Regions from separate parts of the Homo sapiens genome. Here regions 1, 2, 3, 4 and 5 are each linked to region 6. Evidence: fine-mapped expression QTL. A gene starts in region 6. Each other region holds a variant in brackets. All regions are shown on one strand. Distances are between the middles of the regions.

The links. PIP is the estimated chance that this variant, and not a neighbour inherited with it, causes the effect.
Region 1: its variant is fine-mapped to the expression of SH3BP2 in thyroid (GTEx, PIP 0.99).
Region 2: its variant is fine-mapped to the expression of SH3BP2 in whole blood (TOPMed, PIP 0.98).
Region 3: its variant is fine-mapped to the expression of SH3BP2 in whole blood (TOPMed, PIP above 0.99).
Region 4: its variant is fine-mapped to the expression of SH3BP2 in whole blood (INTERVAL, PIP 0.93).
Region 5: its variant is fine-mapped to the expression of SH3BP2 in fibroblasts (GTEx, PIP above 0.99). The same link has a PIP of 0.9 or more in whole blood.

Annotation. Positions count from the first base shown.
Region 1 is chr4:2,766,649-2,770,649 of GRCh38, forward strand. The region is part of intron 2 of LOC102723763 (a long non-coding RNA gene); the gene reads left to right. Among named protein-coding and RNA genes, the nearest start is that of TNIP2, 12 kb to the left of the region's middle. The variant G/A (reference allele first, on the strand shown) is at 1,827.
Region 2 is chr4:2,697,726-2,701,726 of GRCh38, forward strand. It overlaps FAM193A (family with sequence similarity 193 member A), which reads left to right. Exons shown (of 21, transcript NM_001366318.2): 19 at 1,955-2,819. Among named protein-coding and RNA genes, the nearest start is that of TNIP2, 57 kb to the right of the region's middle. The variant T/G (reference allele first, on the strand shown) is at 1,647.
Region 3 is chr4:2,828,680-2,832,680 of GRCh38, forward strand. It overlaps SH3BP2 (SH3 domain binding protein 2), which reads left to right. Exons shown (of 13, transcript NM_001122681.2): 8 at 814-1,468; 9 at 2,892-3,000; 10 at 3,244-3,299; 11 at 3,652-3,733. Among named protein-coding and RNA genes, the nearest start is that of ADD1, 13 kb to the right of the region's middle. The variant G/A (reference allele first, on the strand shown) is at 1,512.
Region 4 is chr4:2,823,151-2,827,151 of GRCh38, forward strand. It overlaps SH3BP2 (SH3 domain binding protein 2), which reads left to right. Exons shown (of 13, transcript NM_001122681.2): 4 at 1,463-1,580; 5 at 1,976-2,046. Among named protein-coding and RNA genes, the nearest start is that of ADD1, 19 kb to the right of the region's middle. RefSeq lists enhancers at 2,799-3,685, 3,686-4,001. The variant G/T (reference allele first, on the strand shown) is at 1,938.
Region 5 is chr4:2,811,172-2,815,172 of GRCh38, forward strand. The region is part of intron 1 of SH3BP2 (SH3 domain binding protein 2); the gene reads left to right. Among named protein-coding and RNA genes, the nearest start is that of SH3BP2, 20 kb to the left of the region's middle. RefSeq lists enhancers at 705-1,789, 974-1,213, 2,164-2,263 and a silencer at 2,974-3,023. The variant A/C (reference allele first, on the strand shown) is at 1,918.
Region 6 is chr4:2,791,011-2,795,011 of GRCh38, forward strand. SH3BP2 (SH3 domain binding protein 2) reads left to right here and starts at 2,075. Exons shown (of 13, transcript NM_001122681.2): 1 at 2,075-2,128. RefSeq lists a silencer at 1,793-2,142.

The sequences.
Region 1 (4,001 bases), 24 kb before region 6:
CTTCCATGGCAAGGGGAATAAAGGCAGCAGATGAATTGAAGTTGCTAATCAGTTACCCTTAAAATAGGGAGCTTTCCCTGGGTCAGCAGGTGATCCCAATGTCATCACAGGGTCCTTCAACGTGGAAGAGGGAGGCGGAAGAGAAGGCCAGAGTAACGCAGTGTGAGAAGGATTTGACCCAGTGTTGCTGACTTTGAGCCTGGAGGAAGGGGCCACGAGCCAGGGAATGCCGGTGGCCTCTAGGAGGTGGAAACAGCCAAGAATGGATTCTCCCCTAGAGCCCCAGAAAGAATGTGGCCCTGCCAACACCTTGACTTTAGCTCAGGGAGACCCCTGTCTCAGACTTCTGACCTCCGGAAGTATCAGAGAATAACTCTGTGTTGTTTTAAGCCACTGAGTTTGAAATAATTTTTTCCTGCAACCACAGGAAACTCATACAGACTGGGGTGAGGTAGGGTTAGGGAAAATCAAAGAGGACCTGAAGACCTTGGCCTGAGCAGTGGGGAGGATGGATCTGCCCTCATCTGGGGCAGGAAGGCTGAGGCTGGGGATGGGGCATTTGAGAGAGCTTGGGACATCGTAAGCAGTGACCTGATTGGTTTCAGCACCCCCAGGGTCTGGCACAGTGCTGCACAGGGGAGGGCCCTCAGGTGACTGTGGAATAAATGAATGAATGTATGATGCATGCATGAATGAATGTTTAGCTGCTCAGTAAATATATGTGGTATGCATGCGTGAGTAAGTGGAAGAGGCTGAGCTGTGACCCCAATATCAGGGGTTGCTGGGGGTGGGGTGCCAGGAGAGGGTTGGTCACAGCCATACCCCTTGCCTGTCTTCAGACCAGCTCTGGGGGAGCAGCCCAGTGGAGGTGTGGCTGCCCCACCTGCTGCCTTCCCCCAGCCAGCCCCCTAGCCCAGTCCTGCAGGCCCCTGTCTGCCTGTGATACAGACTATATCCCCGGGAGCCCTTTCACAAACGCCATTTTTCTCCATCTTGCCCCATTTCCCAATCATAGTTAGGGCCGGGACATCTTCCCAGATGCCCTGGCCCCAGAGAGAGGCTTCTGGAAGCCTTCCTATGGGAGCAGAGGGACCTTAGGATTTGGACAGCCCTGCCTTGGGCCAAGGAGCCAGCTCTCAGACCCTCGGCCTCTTCCGCGAGCCCCTTAGGAGTGAGGGGTCAGCAGAGCAGGGCTGTCCCAGCCAGCATCCCAAGGACGTGGGAGGAGTGACAACCCAGGGGCACTTGTCGGCCTGGCGTCTCTGACAAACTCCAGTGATGGGTGGGTGTGGCACACGGCAGCTGAGGACAGACGAGCACAGCAAGAAGCCTGCACAGCCCCGGAGTGGGAGGGCCTGGCGTGTGGCCTGCAGGCTCTGGTGGCCTTCACAGATCTTTCCTCTCTGTAGCCTTGATGTTTGCGTCTGTTCAATGAAAATTAGCCACAGCTTACTTTTGTCGTGTATTAAAGACATTTGTAGCAAACACCCATGATAGCTGGCGTGTGCCATGCTCTCTGCTGCTCCCAGGCCACCTCATCTGGATGAGGGTGATGTGCCCGTACGGTAGAGGTGATGCCACCTATGAGGGTGATGCCCAGTAGAGCCCTGAGCTGCACAGCCCCTGGGCTAGGAGGTGAGGGTGGCTCTTGGGTCTTTGGTGGCTCCCATTCCTTGTCAGAGCCATTTTCCTCCTCCCAGAAGCCGTCTTCTGGCCTCCTTCCTGTTCAACCCCAGCCCCTCCACACACCGAGCGGGGTGTCTGTATTTCATCCCCACGGAGCCTTCATCTCAGCTGCCAGTGAGGGTTCAGGTGCCATCTGAGGC[G/A]TCTGCTGATAGCCAAGGTGTTACCACTCAACTCCGGTGTTGGGTGATGGCTACAGCGCAGTCTGCAAATTAAGATGTTTGATGGTAAAGAGTTACTTATAACAAAGAGGTTTTTGAAGACAGAAACTGCCGAGGAAGACGAACCCCAGGAGAGATGCTCTTGGGGGCGAGTTACATACCTGGCAGCTCCCGGCAGGCTCCTCCCCAAGTTGAAAAGTCCCTTCAGGTGGGAAGAGCCCAGGGAAAAATGTAGTCCTCACTGAACAGCTGAGAAACTGGGGCTCAGAAGGAAGGACCAACTGCAGCCTTGGTGGTCCCCAGGATAGAGGGCAGGGCTCCCCATGCCCCCAGACCCAGGCCCTCATATTCCCCACCAAAGGCTCAGGAATGTGTGGCTCCATGTAGGAGTGTGGGTGAAGGGGAGCTGAACATAAGCAGGATGGCTAGAAACGGGCAGGGAACCAGATCCCCTCCCCCCACAGCCTCCACCCACAGCTGGGCTTCTGGGCTTCCCCCGCCAGGCCAGACACCAGTGGCTTCTTCCCTGGCGTGGAGCAGACGGAGGGTCTCTGGATGCGGGGGAATATCAGGCTCAGCGGGGCTGAGGTTTCATGCTGAAGGTGGGAGGATGTGATGCACATTTACATGATGCCAAGACCCCAGCGCCGTCCCATCCACCCACCCGCAGTGCTCAGAACGCCGGCAGCCAGACCTCTCCCCTCTATGCAGGGTGTCACAGGGTGTCCAGGGAACCTGATCGGCAGATCACACGGGCGGTTTCCTGCCAGGTCACTGCTTACCAGTCCCTACTCTCCAGCCTGAGAAGCCAGCCGGGATGACCAGACATCTGAGAGATTCCTCTGATGTGGAAGAGAGAGACAAAACAAACAGAAAAAGGACAACTGGAAGGAAACAGAGACTGTTCTGCGAGAAGACAGCTTGGAAAAAACTGTCATTAATATATTCAAGAAGGAAAGATAAAATTTTGTATTTATGAAAAAAGAACTAGGTGCCATAAAGAAAGAACATTTGGAGAATATAAAGAGCACTTGGAAATTAAAAATAGGATCATGGAAATTGAAAACTCAGTAGAAGAGTTGGAAGATAAGATTGAGGAAATTTTATAGAAATTAGAGCAAAAAGTTGAAAATAAAGCCCTTGCAGTGGTGCATGCCTGTCGTCCAAGCTACTCAGGAGACCAGGGTGGGAGGATCACTTGAGTCCAGAAGTTCGAGACCAGCCTGTGCAACATAGCAAGATCCTGTCTCAAAAAAAAAAAAAAAAAAAAAAAAGTTGAAAAAGAAAAAAGTTGAAAATGAGAGAAAAAAAGGAATTGAAGGACCAGTCTGGGACACTTAACATCTACATAATATGTCTAGATAGGGAGAACAAGGAGGGGAGAAAATCATCAAAGAAACAATCCAAAAACATTTCACAGAAATTAAACTCAGCCAGGCACAGTGGCTCACGCCTGTAATCCCAGTACTTTGGGAGGCCGAGGCGGGCGGATCACCTGAGGTCAGGAGTTTGAGACCAGCCTGGCCAACGTGGTGAAACCCCGTCTCTACTAAAAATACAAAAATTAGCCAGACATGGTGGTAATCCCAGCTACTCAGGAGGTCGAGGTGGGAGAATTGCTTGAACCTGGGAGGCAGAGGTTGCAGTGAGCCGAGATCATCTCAGTGCACTTCAGCCTGGGCAACAGAGGGAGACTCTATCTCAGAAAAAAGAAAAAAAAAAAAGAAATTAAACTCAAGTTTCTGGATTGAAAGGACCTGTTGAGTGCTTAGAACCAAGAATGAAAGCAGATGTGTACTTAAGGCACATCAAAGGGAGTTTCAGAACATGGGAGACAAAGAGAAGATCCTGTAAATATCCAGAGAGAAACAACAGGTCCTGGCCAGCAGTGGTGGCTCACGCTTGTAATCCCAGAACTTTGGGAGGCCTAGGCGGGCAGATCACTTGAGGCCAGGAGTTCGAGACCAGCCTGGCTAACATGGCGAAACTCTGTCTCTACTAAAAATACAAAAAATTAGCCAGGCATGGTGGTGGGCGCCTATAATCCCAGCTACCTGGGACGCTGAGGCAGGAGAATCGCTTGAACCTGGGAGGTGGAGGTTGCGGTGAGCTGAGATCGCCCCGTTGTACTCCAGCCTGGGAGACAAAAGTGAAACT
Region 2 (4,001 bases), 93 kb before region 6:
ACTGACTATTGGGCCTGATTGGGAGGCTTTGGGGGAGAAGCCTTGTCCCGTGCCCCAGAAGACTAGAGACTGCTGGAGTGCAGAGAACACAGTGTGTCCTCCATTCAGGAGCGTCCAGCATCGGGGTACCCACGATGGTCCAAGGCCCTGAGACGTCCCATTGGGATTCACTGGAGGCCTCTGGGACGCCTTCCTGAGTTTTCAGGGTACTCTCCACCCCAGGCTCTTGCCCTCTGACCTTGCAGGTGGTCTGAATCCAGACTTGAGGCCCAGCTGAACCTTAGAGGCTGATGTCATAGGCCCTGCCCAGCACCCAGTCCCACCTCGAGGGACCACCTCCTGGTGCTTTCTACGCTGCACCCATTTTACAGAGCAGCTCACAGATGTGTGTTGAGGCTCACTGGCTGGCTGGTTGTTGAAGGGACAGCAATAGTTGACCTATGGACTCTGTCCCGTAGCAGGTCCAAACCGGGGGCCTGTGCTGGGGCAGCCGTTCTGCTGGAGACCAGGGCACCTGCCTTTACATGCTTGTTATTTGTCCATATATTGACAAGGCACGTGTGCTGGATTTAGATCAGCTCTGAGAGGATGCCAACTGGCCAGTGTGTGCCAGCGAGTGTCCTGATGGAGTTGGTCTCTCCTCTGCTCCCGTGCAGGCCCACAGCTCACTCTAGACACTGGACTGCAGGACCCATCCACGAGGTGGCTGCTGGGTGCTGCTCCTGACATACACATGGAGAAGGATGTTAAATAATTTTTACTTGAATTGTCAAATGAAATTTTTAATAACATACCATTGTTAAATTTTTATCATAATTTTTAAGTTTTTCAAAAGACAAGTCAATTTGCCTGTTTAAAATATTGTGAAAAATAATTTACACTTGGGGAGTACTTTTCTATTTCTCTAGGAGAAATGCTTTTGGCAGAGTTTCTCATAAGCCCCAGCATTTCTAAAGGTTGGTGGTGGGTGGAGCCGTGCTCCTAACACTGATGACTCTCATCTGCTTTCTGAACACAAAGAACAGTTTCCATTTGTGCCCCTGGAGTTTGTGTGCATCACTACTCAAATGCTGTCTTTACTTGGGATGAAAATTAATTTTCCATCAAGTTGGACAGTGAGTCATTTGCTCTGTCACATCTGTCACACTAGTGAAAATATATGGCACTTCTGTTTATCTGCTAGGGTGGGAAGAAGGAATTTCTAGTTCTTTACTACACATTGCTTTTTGTGGTGCCATCACAGCTCATTGCAGCCTCAACCTCCTGGCTTCAAGCGATTCTCAAACCTCAGCTTCCCAAATAGCTGGGACCACAGTCGTGCGCCCTCACATCCAGCTAATTTTGATACTTTTTGTAGAGACGGGGTTTTGCCATGTTGCCCAGGCTGCTCTTGAACTCCTAGGATCACAGGTGTGAGCCACTGCACCAGCCTGGTACACATTTCTTACATTCCCTGTTCAAGTGAATGCATTAGCCTTCGCCTGGAAAGGTGGGTTTGCTCAGAGTTCTGGCGGCACGTGTACAGCCTCAGTACTGCCCGGGCAGTCTGTGGTATTGGTTACATCATCCACTCGGCCAGGCGGCATGATGCCCTGCCGCACCTGTGAGGGGGTAGCTGACTCCCTGGATGTGTGCTTTGCAGCTGC[T/G]TTGTCCTTGGTTACTGTGTTTAGTACCAGGTCAAAGGCTATCGGGAATTTTTTGTTAACTACCACCCCCCCCCCCACACACACACACACAAATAAGTAAGCATATACTTTAGTAAATAGATGAAGTTTAACAATCCTGCAGAGTAAGAGAATTGGAGGTGGGTGTGTGTTAAGTTTTGATTTATTACAGCCTCTTCAGAGTTTATGTTCCATATGTGATTCGTTTTTGAAATTATCTTAGTTTTTCTGTATGACTTAATTTTTAGCACTCACTGTAGTCTTAAATTGCCTTCTTTTTGCATTGGCAGCTGGAGGAGAAAGCTCGCCTAGAAGCAGAGGCCAGGGCCCGGGAGCACCTGCACCTCCAGGAGGAGCAGAGGCGGCGGGAGGAGGAGGAGGATGAGGAAGAAGAGGAGGATCGTTTCAAGGAGGAATTTCAGCGGCTTCAGGAGCTTCAGAAGCTAAGAGCTGTAAAAAAGAAGAAGAAGGAGAGGCCAAGTAAAGACTGCCCCAAGTTGGACATGCTCACTAGAAATTTCCAGGCAGCAACAGAGTCTGTTCCTAACTCTGGAAACATCCACAATGGCTCACTAGAGCAAACTGAAGAACCAGAAACCTCTTCTCACTCCCCATCCAGGCATATGAACCACTCAGAGCCCAGGCCAGGGCTAGGGGCTGATGGGGATGCTGCAGACCCCGTCGACACCAGAGACTCCAAATTTCTCCTCCCCAAGGAGGTGAATGGGAAGCAGCATGAGCCACTCTCTTTTTTCTTCGACATCATGCAGCACCATAAAGAAGGAAATGGCAAGCAGAAGCTGAGGCAGACCAGCAAGGCCAGCAGCGAGCCAGCGAGGAGGCCCACAGAGCCCCCCAAGGCCACAGAGGGGCAGTCCAAGCCCCGGGCCCAGACTGAGTCAAAGGCTAAGGTGGTCGACCTCATGTCCATCACAGAGCAGAAAAGAGAGGAGAGAAAAGTCAACAGTAATAACAATAACAAAAAGCAGCTGAACCACATCAAGGACGAAAAGTCAAACCCAACCCCTATGGAGCCCACCTCTCCCGGTGAGCATCAGCAGAACAGCAAGCTGGTGCTGGCAGAGTCCCCTCAGCCAAAGGGCAAGAACAAGAAAAATAAGAAGAAGAAAGGAGACAGAGTCAACAATTCAATTGGTAAATACAGAATAGCGGGAAGGTATTTCTGAGCGATGCCTGGTTTTCCATGTGTGATGTGCTAGTATAGGAAAACACTGGGTTTGGCATGCTCTCGCCATGTGGCCTCCCTCCTGTAGAAAAGAGCGTAGAGGGGCCAGGCATGGTGGCTCACACCTGTAATCCCAGCACTTTGTGAGGCCAGGGTGGGCAGATCACCAGAGGTTAAGAGTTCGAGACCAGCTTGGCCAACATGCTGAAACCCTGTCTCTACTAAAAATAACAAAAAAAAATTAGCTGGGCTTGGTGGTGCACCTGTAATCCTAGCTACTCGGGGAGGCTGAGGCAGGAGAATCGCTTGAACCCAGGAGGCAGAGATTGCAGTGAGCCAAGATCATGCCGTTGCACTCCAGCGTGGGTGACAGAGAGACTCCATCTCAAAAAATACATATAGAGAGAGAGAGGATTTCTACCCCCTCCAGTTCCCCAACTTTAGTTCCCCAACATCAGTATTTCCCATGTTTGCTTCGTTATTCTCTCTCTCCCTCTCTCTCTTATTTTTCTGGACAGAAGGAGAGTCACTTCATACATGATACCCCTTTAACCTAAAATACTTCCATGTATATTTCCTCAAGATAAAGACACTTATAAAACCACAGTACAGTGATCAAAATGAAGAAGTTGACACTGATCCAATGCTATTCTCTAATTGTAGACCTTACTCATGTTTCTCCAATTGTCCTTTTAACATCCTTTATAGCAAAAAAAAAAAAAAAAAGCTCTTGTTGTTTCTCCTGACATGGGATCCAATCCAGGATCCCATGTCGTATCTCTTTAATTTCCTTTCCTTTGGATCGGTTTCTCTGTTTTTCATGACCTTTACTTTTTTGAAGAGTGCAGCGCATTTATTTTTTAGAGGATCCCTTGGTCAGGGTGCATGCCCCATGTCTTCCCAGTCAGGTTCAGATACCATGTTTTGGCGGCAACACCACTGATGTGGCCAGTCCCTGTTGGTATATCCCACCAGGAAGTGGGTGACGGTGTCTGTCCCATCACTGGGGATGGGAACTCTGATCCTGGGTTGAGCTGGTCTGCCCATTTTCACTACGGTCAAGTTAATATTTCTCCTTTGCTAATTAGTAAGTGTCTTATGGGGAAATGAGTATCCTGTTTTTATTGAACATTCACCGACTAGTTGTAGCA
Region 3 (4,001 bases), 38 kb after region 6:
AGCCACCAGTGCTCCTGCATGCTACTGCTCCACTCACCCTCCCTCTGTACCCCCTTCATCCTCTCCCCGAGACATTTCTCGTCCAGGACGCCTGTGGCCTCCCCATTCCCAGTTCCAGCGCTCAGTCCTGAGCCACACCAGCCTGGCGCCTGCCCTGTTCCTTGCCAGCCCGTCCTCCAGGCGCCCCGTGCTCCCGGGGTCCTCTTTCTCCTCAGCTCCTGTGCTGGCCCCATGAGGGATACCCGGGACTCAGACCTCACTCCTCTCCCGAATTCCCTGGGTGACAGCCTGGGTCATCTGCAGGCTGCCCGCTCCGAGTCATGTCCAGCCTGGATTTTTGAACTCTGCACACATTCCCTGACCCCGCATCCCCTGGCATCTCCCAGCTTTCTGGATATGTTCTGAGCAAACACGGGCCTTCACCTTCCTCCCAGCTGCTCCCCTCCCCTGTCCTTGGGAATTCCGTCCTCCCTCTCGCTCCAGCCGAGCCCTGAGATCCTTCTTGACTTCTCTTCCTTTCTCTTCCTTCCACCTCTGGGAACCTGATGGGCTCCTCAGGTGTCCTCTAGGCTTCAGGAAGCGTCCACAGGCTGCCATAGGGAGGATGAATGGGGAAGGCTGGGGGTGGTGGGTGGTCTGGGACCCTGGGGAAGGCAGGATGGGAGTGCTGGGTGCTGGGCTGCTGGGTGGGCAGGCTGTGGGGTGGGCCTACCATGGGTTGCACTCCTGGTTGGCCTGGCTGACCACTGCCAGCAGAGGATAGTGTTGGCCCAGTCTCTGTCAGGGTCCAACCCGGGTCTCTTTGCTCTGCAGATGCCCTGATGCACCCACCGGCTTACCCACCACCCCCAGTGCCCACGCCCAGGAAGCCAGCCTTCTCTGACATGCCCCGGGCCCACTCCTTTACCTCCAAGGGCCCCGGTCCCCTACTGCCACCCCCGCCCCCTAAGCACGGCCTCCCAGATGTTGGCCTGGCTGCTGAGGACTCCAAGAGGGACCCACTGTGCCCGAGGCGGGCTGAGCCTTGCCCCAGGGTACCTGCTACCCCCCGAAGGATGAGCGATCCCCCTCTGAGCACCATGCCCACCGCACCCGGCCTCCGGAAACCCCCTTGCTTCCGGGAGAGTGCCAGCCCCAGCCCGGAGCCCTGGACCCCTGGCCACGGGGCCTGCTCCACTTCCAGTGCTGCCATCATGGCCACTGCCACCTCCAGAAACTGTGACAAACTCAAGTCCTTCCACCTGTCCCCCCGAGGACCACCCACATCTGAGCCCCCACCTGTGCCAGCCAACAAGCCCAAGTTCCTGAAGATAGCTGAAGAGGACCCCCCAAGGGAGGCAGCCATGCCCGGACTCTTTGTGCCCCCCGTGGCTCCCCGGCCTCCTGCGCTGAAGCTGCCAGTGCCTGAGGCCATGGCGCGGCCCGCAGTCCTGCCCAGGCCAGAGAAGCCGCAGCTCCCGCACCTCCAGTGAGTTTGTGTGGCGGCTGCAAGCCCTGCCTCCAGCTACAGG[G/A]ACCCTGGCCTGGCCTCTGACGGGCACTCTGCCCACCTCGCTCCCCTGGCACTCTTAGCCCACGACGGGGTACCAGGTGCAAGGGTAGGAAGGTTCCCGGTTGCCTCCAGTCCGCCTTGGTGGAACGTGGAGCATGTCCATGACTCAGCCCTGAAGCTTGCTGGAAATGCTTTGTTTTTTTTTCTTTTTGAGACAGGGTCTCACGCTGGCAACCAAGCTGGAGTGCAGTGGTGCGATCTCAGCTCACTGCAACCTCCACCTCCGGGGTTCAGGTGATTCTCCTGCCTCAGCCTCCCAAGTAGCTGGGACTACAGGCACCTGCCAACACGCCCGGCTAATTTTTGTATTTTTAGTAGAGACAGGGGTTTCACTATGTTGGCCAGGTTGGTCTTGAACTCCTGGTCTCAAGTGATCCGCCTGCCTCGGCCTCTCAAAGTGTAGAGATTACGGGCGTGAGCCACCGCGTCCTGCTGAAATGCTTTCTGCTTTATTTCTGGGAAGTGCCAGGAGACCAGTTTGTCCCCCACTCCCACAGAGTTACGCCAATGGCTGTGGTCAAAGGCATCTGGGACCCCAGGTGGGCTTCCTGCCTTGCCTGGCAGGCAAAGGGTCCAGGAACTGGAGGGGCAGGTTTCGCATGGGTGTGCTGGCCGGCACGCGCACCCCCGAATGCCCTTGCCCACGGTGCCCTTCTCCCAGGGCTCTGCGAACACCTCTGAGATGCCTGCTGCCTGTGTGGAAGTGCCTCTGAGCAGCCCTTGTCACACTCGTGGTTCTAGTTCACCAAGGGCTGCAGAGATGCAGATGTTCGGAAGTCACGTTTTTCCATGACTGTGGGGATAGCGGTTCCAGGGCTCAGCCTCACCCACAGGCTGGCCTCCCATGCTGGCGTGGCCCGTTAATCCTCCCTAGAGCCTTTGAGGCTTTGCTGAGCAGGACCGGCTAGCCACACAGGGAGGCGTGCAGGGACGCCATGGGCGTCCTTTGGGGTCACACTGCATTGTTCATCCAGTTCACGTCCACTCCCCTGTGGCTCTGAGTGGGCTGTGATTTGGCCATGACCGGACCTCCCCTCCCCACGAGCATCCAGAGCACTTGTTGACGGTGTGATGACACTGAGCTTGGGAACCCTGGACTCCCTTGCCAGCATCCATGGCAGCCCTGACCCCTGACTCCGGTGTCGGGCGATTCCTGCTGTCCCAGGGCAGTCGGCACGAGCCCTACCCGGATCTCTGTTGTCCTGAGCTTTTTAGGGTCACAGGGGCCATAGCAGGCAGCTTGCCGTCCTCACACAGAGGGTGGAGTGGGGAGGGGAGCAGAGGGTGGCCGCCCCGTGTCTGACAGTGAAATGGTCCTGCCTTCCTCTCCCTGCCCCTCCAGGCGATCACCCCCCGATGGGCAGAGTTTCAGGAGCTTCTCCTTTGAAAAGCCCCGGCAACCCTCACAGGCTGACACTGGCGGGGACGACTCGGACGAGGACTATGAGAAGGCAAGGCTGAGCGGCAAGCCTGGGTCCCAGTGGCCAGTAGGTGGACAGGTGGTGGGAAAGCCATAGGCCAGGGCGGCCCCTCACAGACCGTCCTGAGCAAGGACCCCCCGAGAACCCGGGAGCCTAGGGGGACACAGCACCATGTAAAGCCCCGGATCCCGGCACCGGGTGGCCACCGTCCGGGGAGTGGTGGTGCGGGTGGATCACTCCGACGTTGGCACTGACACCGTCAGCCTCTTGCAGGTGCCACTGCCCAACTCGGTCTTCGTCAACACCACGGAGTCCTGCGAAGTGGAAAGGTCAGCACAAAGCCCTGTGTGTGCTGGGTCCTCCGCCATGCCCGGCTTCCTGCTTCTGTGTCCCTCTCACTAGCTTCCGTGTTGGGGAGTTGCTGGCACAAGTTCATGGCCCTGCGTGCAGCAGAAACCAGAGGAGTGGACCTCCCTGCTCTGTCCCATGCCCAGCTGGCACCCTGGCTGGCCAGGGCTCTGCTGGGCTGCTTCTGTCAGCCTCACGGCAGCCCGACGTGCTCAGCTCCTGAGACCTACAACAGCGAGAGGACAGAAAGCCAGGCTTGGGAGCGGGGCGGGAAGGTCCGTGTGAAAGCTGCCCGAGGAGGACTCACCCGCTAATATGACTGTCTTATTTTAGGTTGTTCAAGGCTACAAGCCCCCGGGGAGAGCCCCAGGATGGACTCTACTGCATCCGGAACTCCTCTACCAAGTCGGGGAAGGTAGGCGCCAGGGGAAGATGCCCCAGGGCCCCTCTGGCTCTCCACACACCCAGGCTGTGGGTGGGCCCAGGACTCCACAGTTCCTAAACCACTCCCCTTGTGGACTCTTACTTGGTGTCTCAGCTGAATTCTCTTCCCAGCAGCACCCCCCAATCTATTCCCTAATAGATCTCCATCTGCAAATTGGGGGCCATGATGGCCACCTCCCAGTGGGGGCCAGGACTCGGGTGGGGTAGGGCTCATGCTCTGGGGTGGCGGAGGCCACATG
Region 4 (4,001 bases), 32 kb after region 6:
AGCAGCCTTCGTGCCCATCCCCTGTCCTCCCCGCCCAGCCTCCACAGTGCCTCGCCCTCTCCGCGTGTCCTGCCCTCAGGCGCAGGACCTTGGGGGTGCCAGGGTCTTCCTGTGGCTTTGTGCACAAGTCCCAGAGGCCTGGACAGCCTGCTCTCCAGAGTCTCCACTCGGCCACCACCCAGTGACTTCTGCATCTCTCCTCCCTCCCCACCTTGCCCCTTCACCCACCATGACCTCTTTCCAGGCAGCCCAGACCCCAGCCAGCCCAGGCCCTGTCCCAAACAGAGGCTGGGCCCTAGGATTCCCTGCTCCAGGGTCCTCCCAGGCCGGGATCAGTTTCCAGCTTCACGCATGTCCTGGGCTGGGCTCTATCCAGTGATGGGCCATGAGCTGCCCTGGAGGGCCTTCTGCACTAACAGGCAGGTGGGCGGTGGCCAGGTGGCATGTGGGTGGGGGAGTGCACTGGCACAGCCCATGGCCTGGGGCCCACACAAAGGGTTAATGCTGGCACCCAGCTCTGGTTCTGGTTGCTATCCCATCGGAGCCCTGCACCCCACAGCATTTATCTATGCCTCTTACCACCCCTTAAGGGCCCAGCCCCTCCTGCCTATGAGGAACCAAGGGTCACATGGTATCAGTAGTGGAACTGGGACCTTTGGAGTGACTCTAGGCCCCGGCCTGCACCCTGGCCACAGGCCTGGTAGGGCAGCCTTGCCAGAGCACCCAGCCTGGTGCCAGGCCCCCATGCTGGCACAGAGCTCCGGGGTCCCCTGGGGAAGGTCGTTCCCTTTCTGCAGACAGACACAGCGCCTTCCGGCCTCCAGCATGTGCCAGCCATGCCATGAACCCTGGGCCCAGTGGCAGATGCAATCATGCCCCAGGGAATTGTCTAGCCCATCAGGGAATGCTGGGCCTGAGGAGTTTTGGCCAGGCTCTTATGGGCCGTATAAGTGCACCTGCCCCGGTGCCTGGCTGGCAGGGCTCCCCACGTGATAAACTCAGCGCAAACCCCACATCCTGGCTGTGTGAGTGGGCCGCAGAGCAGGCACGAGTCATTCCCTGAAATGCACTCAGGGCTGCTGCTGGGCCTCAGGGGCACGGAGCCCTGTGGGGTACCCCAGGGAGGCCAAGCAGGCCTGGGCAAATGGGGCCAGAGGTGGGAGGGTGGCGTCCATGTAAAGTGGCATTGGCGGGCATCGAGGCAGGTTTGTCCTTGTCTCCTGTGCACTGCTGCTCCCACGAAGCCCACCCAGCACCCCTCTTCCATGCCCCTCCATGCCCCCTTACGCCTGCCTGGGCATGAAGCTCACTACTGGGAGCATCAGCAGCCAGGGCCCACCCGATCTGCCCTCTTCCGTTGGGGCGTGGTGCTGGTGCCGAGACGTGTTCACAGGGGGGTGCTGTGGGAAGGCCATCCCTATAGCTGTGAACCAGGCCGTGACCCCTGGCGCTGTGCCCCCAGGGTGATGCGGGCGGCTGAGGAGACCACGTCCAACAACGTTTTCCCCTTCAAGATCATCCATATCAGCAAGAAGCACCGCACGTGGTTCTTCTCGGCCTCCTCCGAGGAGGAGCGCAAGGTGACTGGGGGTCCGAGGACGAGTGCAAGGTGACTGGGGGTGTGGGCCTGCAGGCACCAGGCTGGACCTGCCTTGGGGGCTCGCTGGTCCTGGGGCGCTGGCCTCTCAGCCCCGGGCAAAGAGAAGGTGTGGCTGGGACACAGGCAGCTGGGTGGGTGCTGCCCCAGCTCCATCCCCATGCCCAGAGCCTGGTGCCAGCGCCCACACAAGGAACATGCTGTCCTGGGAGGTGCCCCTGTGGGCTGAGGGGAGCCACACAGCCATGTTGTATCCAGCCGGGTCGCCTCCTCTGACCTTGGGAGTCACAGCAGAGCAGGCAGGGCAGTGAAGGTGGAGGGGTGCGGTGGGGCCCACCCT[G/T]GTGGCACCGTGCCCACCACAGCCCCGCTGACCTGCAGAGCTGGATGGCCTTGCTGCGCAGGGAGATTGGCCACTTCCACGAAAAGAAAGACCTGCCCTTGGACACCAGGTGAGCCCGGGCCCAGGGCATACCGGGCAGTGAGGGTCCCTGGGGCGCCTGGGCCTGACCCGGGTGTCCGCCTCCCAGCCCCGGGCTTGGCATAGAATTCCGTCCTTAAAGGTTTCCTGGAGGTGCCAGCTGGGCTGCGTCTCTCTGCTCCTGTCTACAGATAAACACAGATACAGGACAAGCACAGATGTTCACACACAGACGAGCGACACGCGGACACGCACACACAAACACAAGCAACACGCGGACATGCACACACACAGAGCAACACGTGGACATGCGCACACACACAGAGCAACACGTGGACATGCACACACACACAGCAACACGTGGACATGCACACACACACAGCAACACGCAGACATGCACACACAAACACAGAGCAACACACAGACATGCACACACACACAGAGCATGCACAGGTGTGCATGCATCTCTCTGCTCCTGTCTACCTCCAGCCCCATCTGTCACATCTGTTTCTGTGTTGCCGCCATGGGTAGTTCCTGTTAGGGGATCATGTGTGTTTATACGCCTGCCACCAGGGAGGCCTGGCATGGCAGCAGCTGGGCACTTTGGGTTCCCAGCCCCCTACGCCCACCCTGGCTCACTCAGAGTGAGACCAGAATGATTCTCCTGGCGGGGCGCCACTGGGCAGTCTGAGCCTTGGCAGCCTCCCCCGTGAGCTGGCCCGACGTGCAGCAGATACTCTCTGGATTGGGACTTCCTGGCCCGAGACGATGTGGAGGGAACAAACCTTCCTGTCCTTTCACAGGTGGGGACAGGAGGCCCAGGGAGGGCTGGGCACAGCCAAGGCTGCCCTGCAGGTCCCTGCCTGACTCCGGGCTCCCGTCCCCTGGTCCAAGCTGTTCAGCCTCGGGCCCAGCCCAGAGTCGCCCAAGCCCTCTTGAGGCAGGAGCAGGTGGAGACGTGGGCACAGTCAGGGCGGCCATCCTTGTGGGCCAGAAGGGGCACCTAGTGGAGGCACCACAGCCTCCAGTTCTTCTGTCTGTCCTTGTAACTGTGTGTGCATGTCCGCGTGTTGCTCCGTGTGTGTGCATGTCCGCGTGTTGCTCTGTGTGTGTGCATGTCCGCGTGTTGCTCTGTGTGTGTGTGTGCAATGTCCACGTGTTGCTCTGTGTTTGTGTGTGCATGTCTGCGTGTTGCTCTGTGTTTGTGTGTGCATGTCCGCGTGTTGCTCTGTGTGTGTGCATGTCCACGTGTTGCTCTGTGTTTGTGTGTGCATGTCCGCGTGTTGCTCTGTGTGTGTGCATGTCCGCGTGTTGCTGTTTGTGTGTGCATGTCTGCGTGTTGCTCTGTGTGTGTGTGCATGTCCGCGTGTTGCTCTGTGTGTGTGTGTGTGCATGTCTGCATGTTGCTCTGTGTGTGTGTGCATGTCTGTGTGTTGCTCTGTGTTTGTGTGTGCATGTCTGCGTGTTGCTCTGTGTGTGTGTGCATGTCCACGTGTTGCTCTGTGTGTGTGCATGTCCTCATGTTGCTCTGTGTGTGTGTGCATGTCCGCATGTTGCTCTGTGTGTGTGCATGTCCGCGTGTTGCTTGTGTTTGTGTGTGCGTGTCCGTGTGTCGCTCGTCTGTGTGTGAACATGTGTGCTTGTCCTGTATCTGTGTTTATCTGTATACTTCCATGTCTGTGTGACAGAGTCCTTGTGTCTGTGTGTCTACATGTCTGCGCGTGTCCCTGTGTCTTTGTGTATATATATCCATGCCTGTGTGCCTGTGTTCCTGCGTGTGCTTGTGTGTGCACGTGTGCATTTGTGTGTTTGTCAGAGTATGTGTGCATGTGTGTGTCTGTCAGCGTATCCATGTGTGCATGTGTGTGTCTGTCAGCGTATCCGTGTGTGCATGTGTGTGTCTGTCAGCTTAACCATGTGTGCATGTGTTTGTCAGTGTATCCGTGTGTGCATCTGTGTATCTGTCCATGTATCCGCGTGTGCCTG
Region 5 (4,001 bases), 20 kb after region 6:
GCTCCTTAGCCTGGGAGCTGCCTTTTTTGAGTGACCCGACACCTAGGCTATGGGACAGCTTGGGACCTGCACAGCCGGTTACGGGGCTGGGGTCCAGGGTTTGTTGGGAGGCTGATTTCGGGGGGCCGTGCCCTAGGAAGCCTGGCGGGCAAGATGAGACCCCTGCAGCTTTGTGGCCTGTGCTCTGTGGCCTCTGTCACCCTCAAATCCTGCTGTGAGGGTGGCCCCAGGCCCCAGAAAGCCCCTTTCTCCAGCTGCCTCTGCCCAGGGGTCCTGTCCTCCCTGGGCAAGTTCTGGGAGGAGAGGGAGGGCGCTCAGCAGCCAGTGGCTAGAATCCCCATTCCCTGCTTCCGGGCTCTGGGCCTGGGCAGGGCACTGGGCTTGGTGGGGGCAGAGCAGCCCTGGGAGGGGCCGAATTCTGAGCGGGCCTTGGGGCAGGGGCCGGTGAGTACGGGAGCGTGCTTTGCCACTCAGCCATAATGTACTTTCTAGCAAACCAGATGTTAGCAGAGCTGGTGTGGTTGCGGGGACGTGAAAAGGCTGGGGATAGAGTAGGAATCGAGGAATGCCAGAGCCCAGGCCTAGTCCCTCAGTCCCTTGGTGTCAAAGGGCACAGAGATGGCCACCTTGAAATTCATAGAACCGGGTGCAAGACATAACAGCCCTCTGTGTGGCCTCAGATGGCAGAGCAGGGTGGCAGCAGCTGCCCTGGCAGGAAGAGCATGCTGGTAAGGTGACACCATCCCTGTGTGTGTTGTAAATGCTGCTCTGTGCTGGGCCTGACACCCAGGGTGCAGGTTGTTTCATGGTTTGCTAGGGAGAAGCCGAGTATTCAGAGGTGGCCCTGCGGGGAGGCAGCAGGGAGCTTCCTCCCAGGGATGCAGCTGACCTTGCGCTGGAGCCAGAGAGCCCTGGCCTCTGACCACAGGATGGGAGGGCAGGAGCAGTGGAAGGTAGGAGTTAAAACCCGGATGGTGGATGAGGGGCAGCCCTGGGCCCCAGGCAGCTTTCAGGACCTCACAGGGTAGAAGGCAGGAAGTGCCGGCTACTTGGTGCTGCCCAGGGAGCAGGGAACAGGAAGTCCCGGGTGGGGAGGAAGCACCGGCGGCCACAGGCCTCAGAAGCAGCAGGAGTGAGCTGTGGGCACAGCTGTGGGGCAGCCAGGCGCGTCAGGCCTCACATGTCTGGGAGATGTAGGCTGCCTGGGCTGGTGGCCCCTGAGCCGCATGGCCTCCCTGGGCCCCAGGACACCGGCCCCGAGCAGGTCACGAGGACGGAGGGCCATGTGTTGGGTCAGCACCATCAGGTCAGTGGGGCGGCCCCAGGACTGGGGCTCGGGAGGCGGCACTGGTCTAGCACCTGAAGAACCAGTAAGGGGGCCCCACGTGGGAGCCACAGCCTTCCTCGGGGCTGGCCGTGGGAGCCCACAGGAGGTGGCCCTGAGCCTGCAAAAGGCAACAGGCTCTGAGGAGAGTGGCCTCTGTCTGCCTTGAGAGGCCCCCGAGCTGGCAGGCACAGGGGGAGGCCAGAGAGGGAATGTGATACTTAGAACCCCCCCCACCCCCCCATCACATGCGGCCGACAGGGAGGCGGGGGCCAGCCTGCTGGGGTGGGGCCCAGGTCCGGGAACTTCTCATGATACAGCCTGCAGGGTGGCCTTGGTGTTTGGGTCCTAAGTACACACGTTGTGTATGTGAGTGTGTGTTTCTGTTGTGGGGGGGTAACGGAGAGAGCTGTACAAGGTCCCTGCTGCCCACCTGGGGAGTGCCATGCTCTGAAACCTGCAATGTGGAGGACCCGCAGGGACCTCAGGGACTGCCGGGCTGGGGCTGTGCTCGCAGAGCCCAGGCTGGGCCACCCTGCCCCTGGCCAGCAGTGCTTCTCTGGCATAGCTGGTTACTGGGCCTTTACGGGAGA[A/C]TTTTGGTTTTGATTATGTTAACAGAGAAAGATTCTGGGAACAGGAAGGAAACAAGGGAAACCGAAAAGGAAGAGCAGACAGCTGTGGGGAGGCAGGGCAGCCAGGGCTCCAAGGTGGAAGCCGCCCCATCTGCACATCCCACGCCCACCACCGGCCACCCACTGTGCGCCAAGCTGGGCCGTGGCTGTGCTGGGCCGGGGGTGGTGCGTGAGCCACCATTTACTGGCTGTGTGACTTTGGCCAAGTTTCTTCGTCAGTGACTTGGGGAGGACTCTGGTTTGAAGCTCAAGGTGTTGGATGATGGGGCGATCACTGAGAAGCACAGAGCTTGGCCCACAGGGAGTGCCCAGTGCGCTCGGCACAAGGCCTGATCCTCTCCCAGCCTCTATACCCAAGTCTGTAAAATAGAAGTAAAGTATTGAGCTCAGGTGGACCCTGGTCGATTTAGTGAGCTGTGAGGTACAGCTTGGCACTGGGCCCTGGCAGGGCTGGGAGTGGTGGTGATGATTCTGTGCTCAGGCTTCAGGACACGGAGACACAGAAGACCGCACTTGACAGGTCTTGTTGGTCGTTGGAGGCTGTGTGTGTGTGAATGAGTGCTTGCATATGCATGAGTGAGTGTGATGAATGTGTATATCAGTATACATATGGGTGTGAGTGTGCACGTATGAGTAGACATGAGTGCATGAGTGTGTATGAGAACATGAGAGCGAGTGGGCATGCGGGAGAATGAGTGTGTATATATGTGTTAGTGTGGATGGTGTGAGTGTTAACTGTACATGCATGAGTGTGACAGGATGCGCATATATGAGCGTGTGAATAAAGTGCACAGGGTGACCTGGTATCTTCTCCCTTTGGGCTGGATCCCCAGCCCCAACTTGCCCTGTGGCTCCCACAAATGGGGCCAACCTGATCACCACTAACAGTAAGTCCTTGACCCTGTGGTCACATGAGGTGCTGGCTCCCTTACCACAGCCAGGATGATCCTGCAGGAGCCCAGCCTCCCAGAGCCCCCACCCTGCTCCTATGCAGGGGCTCACGCCTGTGTGCATGCGAGCTGTGCAGCTCATGTGCACGTCCTGTGTGAGTGCACCACCTGTGACATTAACTGGGTGTGCAGAGACACAGCGCACATGAGGGCCTGCACAGGCCATGACCACACACGCCACAGGGCTCATGGGGCCCCAGGGTGGTGGGAGCCACAGAGCCTGCATTAAATGGAACCCGATGGGGTGTCTCTGTGGGACTGAGCACTTTTCACCTGACTGCTCTGCCCCCCACCGCAGCAGCCTCAGGCCTTGGGGTCACCTGAACCAATTGCAACTTTGAGAGAAGGTAGGGAGATGAGCACAGAAACAGAGACCTGGAGAGTGTATCCCAGGTGCCCCGTCTTCCCTAATGTGCATGTGCACACACACACACACACGCACACACGCACAAGTGTACAGGCTCAAATGCAAATCTCCACGTGTGCACACATGCAAAGATCACATACTTTCTGGAAGGGCTCATGGAGCCCAGCAGCCACCACCAGCTTTGGCCGCCCAACGCTGGCCCATGTGTCTCCAGAGCCCTGCCCCAGAGAGCAGCTGCAGAGGTGTCAGGGGACTCTGAGAGTGGACTCCTCCATACCCACTTTACACTGGAGGAGGTGGGGGCTCAGGGGAAGGAGGGGCCCCAGGAAGGATGTGAACCCAGATCTTCAGCACTCTCCCTCACAGCTCCTGCCCATGTTAACTCAGCCGACACCGCAGCAGCATGGTGACAGGTCCCCCCAGGGTGTCTGCCTCTACAGAGGAAGGGACTGAAGCACCCAGAGAGCTGGCAGGTAGGCCTGTGGAGTCCCCTGGAATGAATGAATGGAATTTAACCATCAGGTCCCTGGAAGAGGGGCTGGGCACTGAGAAGCACAGCCAGGGAGGCCTGGCCAGCTAGGAGTGTGGGTGCTCCTTGGGGATGCCCCCTGGTTTTCCCGAGCACAAGTGGGGCCAGATTCTGTGAGCTGGGCTGAACTTCCCCAAGAGCAGCATGGTCACCACGGCCTCCATGGCCCATCATCACCCTCAGCCTCAGCCGACCTTTC
Region 6 (4,001 bases):
GCCCAGCCTGGAGCTCCCTCCGCATGTGGCCTCTTACAGGAGTGACGCAGCCCCATGCGGTGCTAACAGTGGCAGCACTGAACGTCGGATGGGGCTGAGCCCAGCCACTTCCACAATGGCTGTAGTTCCTATCTCTTCCTCCCTGCTAGGAAAATGTGAAATAGCCCAGAGTGGGGGGTGGGCAGAAGAGTTGCAGGCTACCCAATGCTGGGATGAGCAGAGTTGAGACCTGGGGAGCCAGGCCCAGGACACTTACAGGTGGGGATGTGAGCAGGCACCCCAGAGAGTGAGCACCCCAGCCAGCCAGCACCCATCTACTCCCTCACTGGGGTCTAAGTTCAGCCCCGAGAGCTAGGCTGTAGGTGGGTAGAGTCACAGCCCCAGCGCCGGTGTGAGGGGTGGCCCTGGGCCAGGTAGAGTGAGTATCTGCCTGCTGTCATGCCCCATCCACTTCTGCCGCCTCCCCAGTAGAGGACCCCCTCCATTTCACAGATGGGGAAAAGGGGCCCTGTTGTCTGAAGACTCTCCCATATCCTCCCCTGCCTCTGCCATCCCCTGCTTTGTCCCTTCCCTTCCAGAGGCCCTGCCTTGGTCCTGGTCACTTCCTGGTAGGCACTGGCTCTTCCTCTATGCCTGGGCTCAGGGCCTGGCCACCTAGTTTTCTGACTCCTCCCACTTACTCCCCTCCCCAGTTAACCTCTCTGATCCCAAGTGTGTCTCTCCAGCAGGGAGGAGGGCTATTGCAGCCAGGGATCCCCTTTCTGAGGCTTGGGACCCATTATTGGGCAGCTCTGGGACAGGTGGACGGTGACTTGGCCCACACTCGGTCCAGCTGCAACCCTGAGAACCCGCTTGGTTTGGCTGTGTCTCCTGGAGGCCCTCAGGTATTTCAACCTGTAGGACCCAAACCCAGTCCTTCACCTGCTGCAGGGCCAGCCCTGGACACCCCTGCCCCTGCCTGATTTGGAGCAGCCAATTCAGCCCCTGTCATTGGACTCTGGCCTCTTGTGCTCAGTACAGAGGGTCAGACCTTGGCCGCCTGCCTGGACAGGGCCAGGTCACCACCACCCACCCCCAGCTCCCTTGGGTTCCCAGCAAGATCCTGTCCTTCCTCTACTCACAGCTTCCTGGGCTCTGGGACCTGGGGTCCAGTCCCCACTCCTCATGGGGAGGAGTCCCCCCACGCCCCAAGCAGTTGACTCCCGCACTGGTGGGGGGTCCGCTCGCCCTCAAGCTCTGCAGGCCCAGCTTGGTCTCCCCAGCCTCTTCACTTTCTCCACGGCTCCCTCCACCTACCTGGCCCTGAGAGCTCCCCAGGGAAGCCATTTCCTCCCAGGAAGCCCCTCCTCTTCTCGCCCCTGCCCTTACACCAAGGCATCTGGGCCTACTCTTAGGGAGAGGGTGATGGTGGAGGAAAGGGAGCCTCAGAGGAGGCCAAGTGTAAAGCACCCGGTCTCCTGTGCCTCCCAGCCCCAAGACGACCTCTGGGCCACCGGAGTCCAGACCTGGTCCAAGAGGCGAGGTCCCCCTGGGAAGTGCCTGAAAAGTACCCTGGAGGACATTTGGAAACAAAGACAAGGTTTCCTGGTGCCCAGCAAGCCCTCCCCCACCTCCCCTGCTCCTGTCTTGGCCAGGGCCTAAGTCGCACTCACGGGGCAGGGGTGGGGCCGCCCAGGATCAGGACCACGGGGCTGGGGGGGTGGACAGCGCCCTTTCCACCTGGGTCGCTGGGCACTGGGGTGTCACTGGGAGGGACACGCAGGAGGGACAGACACGCTACCTCACTCACGGGCGAGAACTAAGCACCTACTGTGGACCCGGCGTCTAGGCCCGCGACAACGCCAGTCTTCGCCCCCCAGGGGCCTCGTCCCGGGGCCGCGGAGGCCACGTGCAGTTCCCCGCCCACCCTGAGGTACCGGCCCCGCCCCACGCCCAGCTCGGACCTCCAGGATTGCGGGACCCGCCGGGGAGGGGCGGGGCCGGGGCGGGGCCAGGAGGAGGGCGGACTGGGCGGGCGCGGGCGGGACGGAGCTGCGGCGGCGGCGGGTCCCGCGGGCGGGAGCGCCTGGCGGCCGAGTCAAGCCGCCGCCTCGACCCAGGGCCCGCGGGCCAGGAGAGCGCTCGGCGGGTAAGCCTCGGCGGCGGGTCTCGGCGGGTCTCGGGGGTCTCGCGGGGGGGCGGTCTCCGCGTCTGGAAGGGGCTCGGCGGGCCTTGGCGGTCTGGGGGCTCTCGGCGGGTCTCGGGGGTCTCGGGGGAGTCTCGGGGTCCCGACAGGTCTCGGCGGGTCTCGGGGGTCTCGGGGGAGTCTCCGGGGAGTCTCAGGGGTCCCGGCAGGTCTTGGCAGGTCTCGGGGGAGTCTCAGGGTCCCGGCAGGTATGGGCGGGTGTCGGGGGTCTCGGGTGCGCAGCAGCCTCCCCCGGGCCCCGGGGCCTCCGTGTCCTTGCCAAAGGACGCACGGGGCCTGGGCACGGCGGGCAGTGCCCGAGGGAGCGCGGCTTCGGGGCGGGGGCCGGGTGTCCCTTGCCGGGGGCTCAGGGGTGGGAGGCGGTGCGACGCGTCTGTTTCGCACCCCTCGCGCCCCTCTGGCCCCGCGGCGGGGCCCCTTTACGCGACCCTCCCCACAAGACTCAAAGGCTGCGGCGGGCACTCGCTCTCCGCCCTTCCCGGAATCCAAACTTCCCTCTGCAGCGGCCGCGCTTCACGGAGGGCAAGAAAAGCCGCCCACTGGCGCTGATTCACACTGAAGTGTGAGTGACTGATAGCCGGGCGTCTGAGACTCTCATGGGCAACAGGGAATCTCAGGGGTGGCAGAGGGACTGGAGGAGTTAGGGGGCGGGGACAGCCCCTTCCACCTGTACGCTGGCCTCCCTGCAGCCCAGCACTTTCCCGCTGCTCTGGGCCTCGGCTCCCTGGGGGTATTGAGGGCCTGAGCCCTGCTGTGGGGAGCCTTCTGCTGGTGCTCCTTTCCGTGAGCACCTCCTATCCCCTCTCTGTGCCTCAGTTTGCTCATCTGTTGACACTGGGGACAGCTGTGCCTCCTGGTCTAGTGGCCACACTTAAGTCCTTCGAATTGGCTGTGGCCAGGGGCGGGTACTCCGTGTGGGCTGCTGGGGTGGACAGCCTGCCTGGATGACATGTGTGTGGCCTTGCAGGTGACATGGGCCGGTGATGCAATGTGTAGAATTGTTTCCACAACCGCCTGAAGGCAGGGCCCACAGCCTCCTCCTTGCCGAAGCAAGCCTCTGGGTTCAGGTCAGCCCTGCACCAACTCCATGAGCCTGGACAAGCTCCTGCCCTCACTGGCTCAGGCCCTGTGGGACCAGAGGAGGGGCTGGGCTCCACCCCCTCCTGGTTCTTCCCACTCTGTCCACTGTCTCCTCTACGTAGACACCGTCGAAGGGCCCTCTTGGAGCCCAACCTCAGGGCCCCACTCCAGGCACTCCACTCCTGGCAGGACAGGAGGCCTGGGACGAGGGCTGCAAGGGAGTGAGGATTCTGTCTATCCCCTCTCCCTGCCACCCGCCAGGCTCCCTTTGCCTGGCTCTGTGCCCTGCGTTAGGCACACCCTGGAGGGGGCAGGCAGAAGGAAGACAGATAGGCAGCCGTGTCTAGGAACTGCCAGCCAGGGCCATCTGGTGAGAGGGGTGCTGACAGGGGACCTGGCCTTTCAGGGAGTCCCCAGGCCTCCAGGATCATGGGGGAGCCCACCAAGGAGGCTGGCCTGAAGAGGCAGACAGAGGGAGGACAGGCTCTGGGCCTGCCTTGGCCCTTTCTGCCCACATGGACAGAGGAAGCAGGGTGCTGAGTCAGCTGGAGCTCCCCACCCCCCAGGGATGCACGCACACAAGCAGGCCCACAGACGGGAAGTCCAGGGGCCCAGAGAGACGAGATGGCCAGCCTTGGTTCCTGAGGGGCAGGGAGGAAGGGCGCAAACTCAGCCAGGATCTTGGGTGTGAACTCAGATGCCACCAGTTTCCAGCTGTGTGATCATGGCCAGGAGG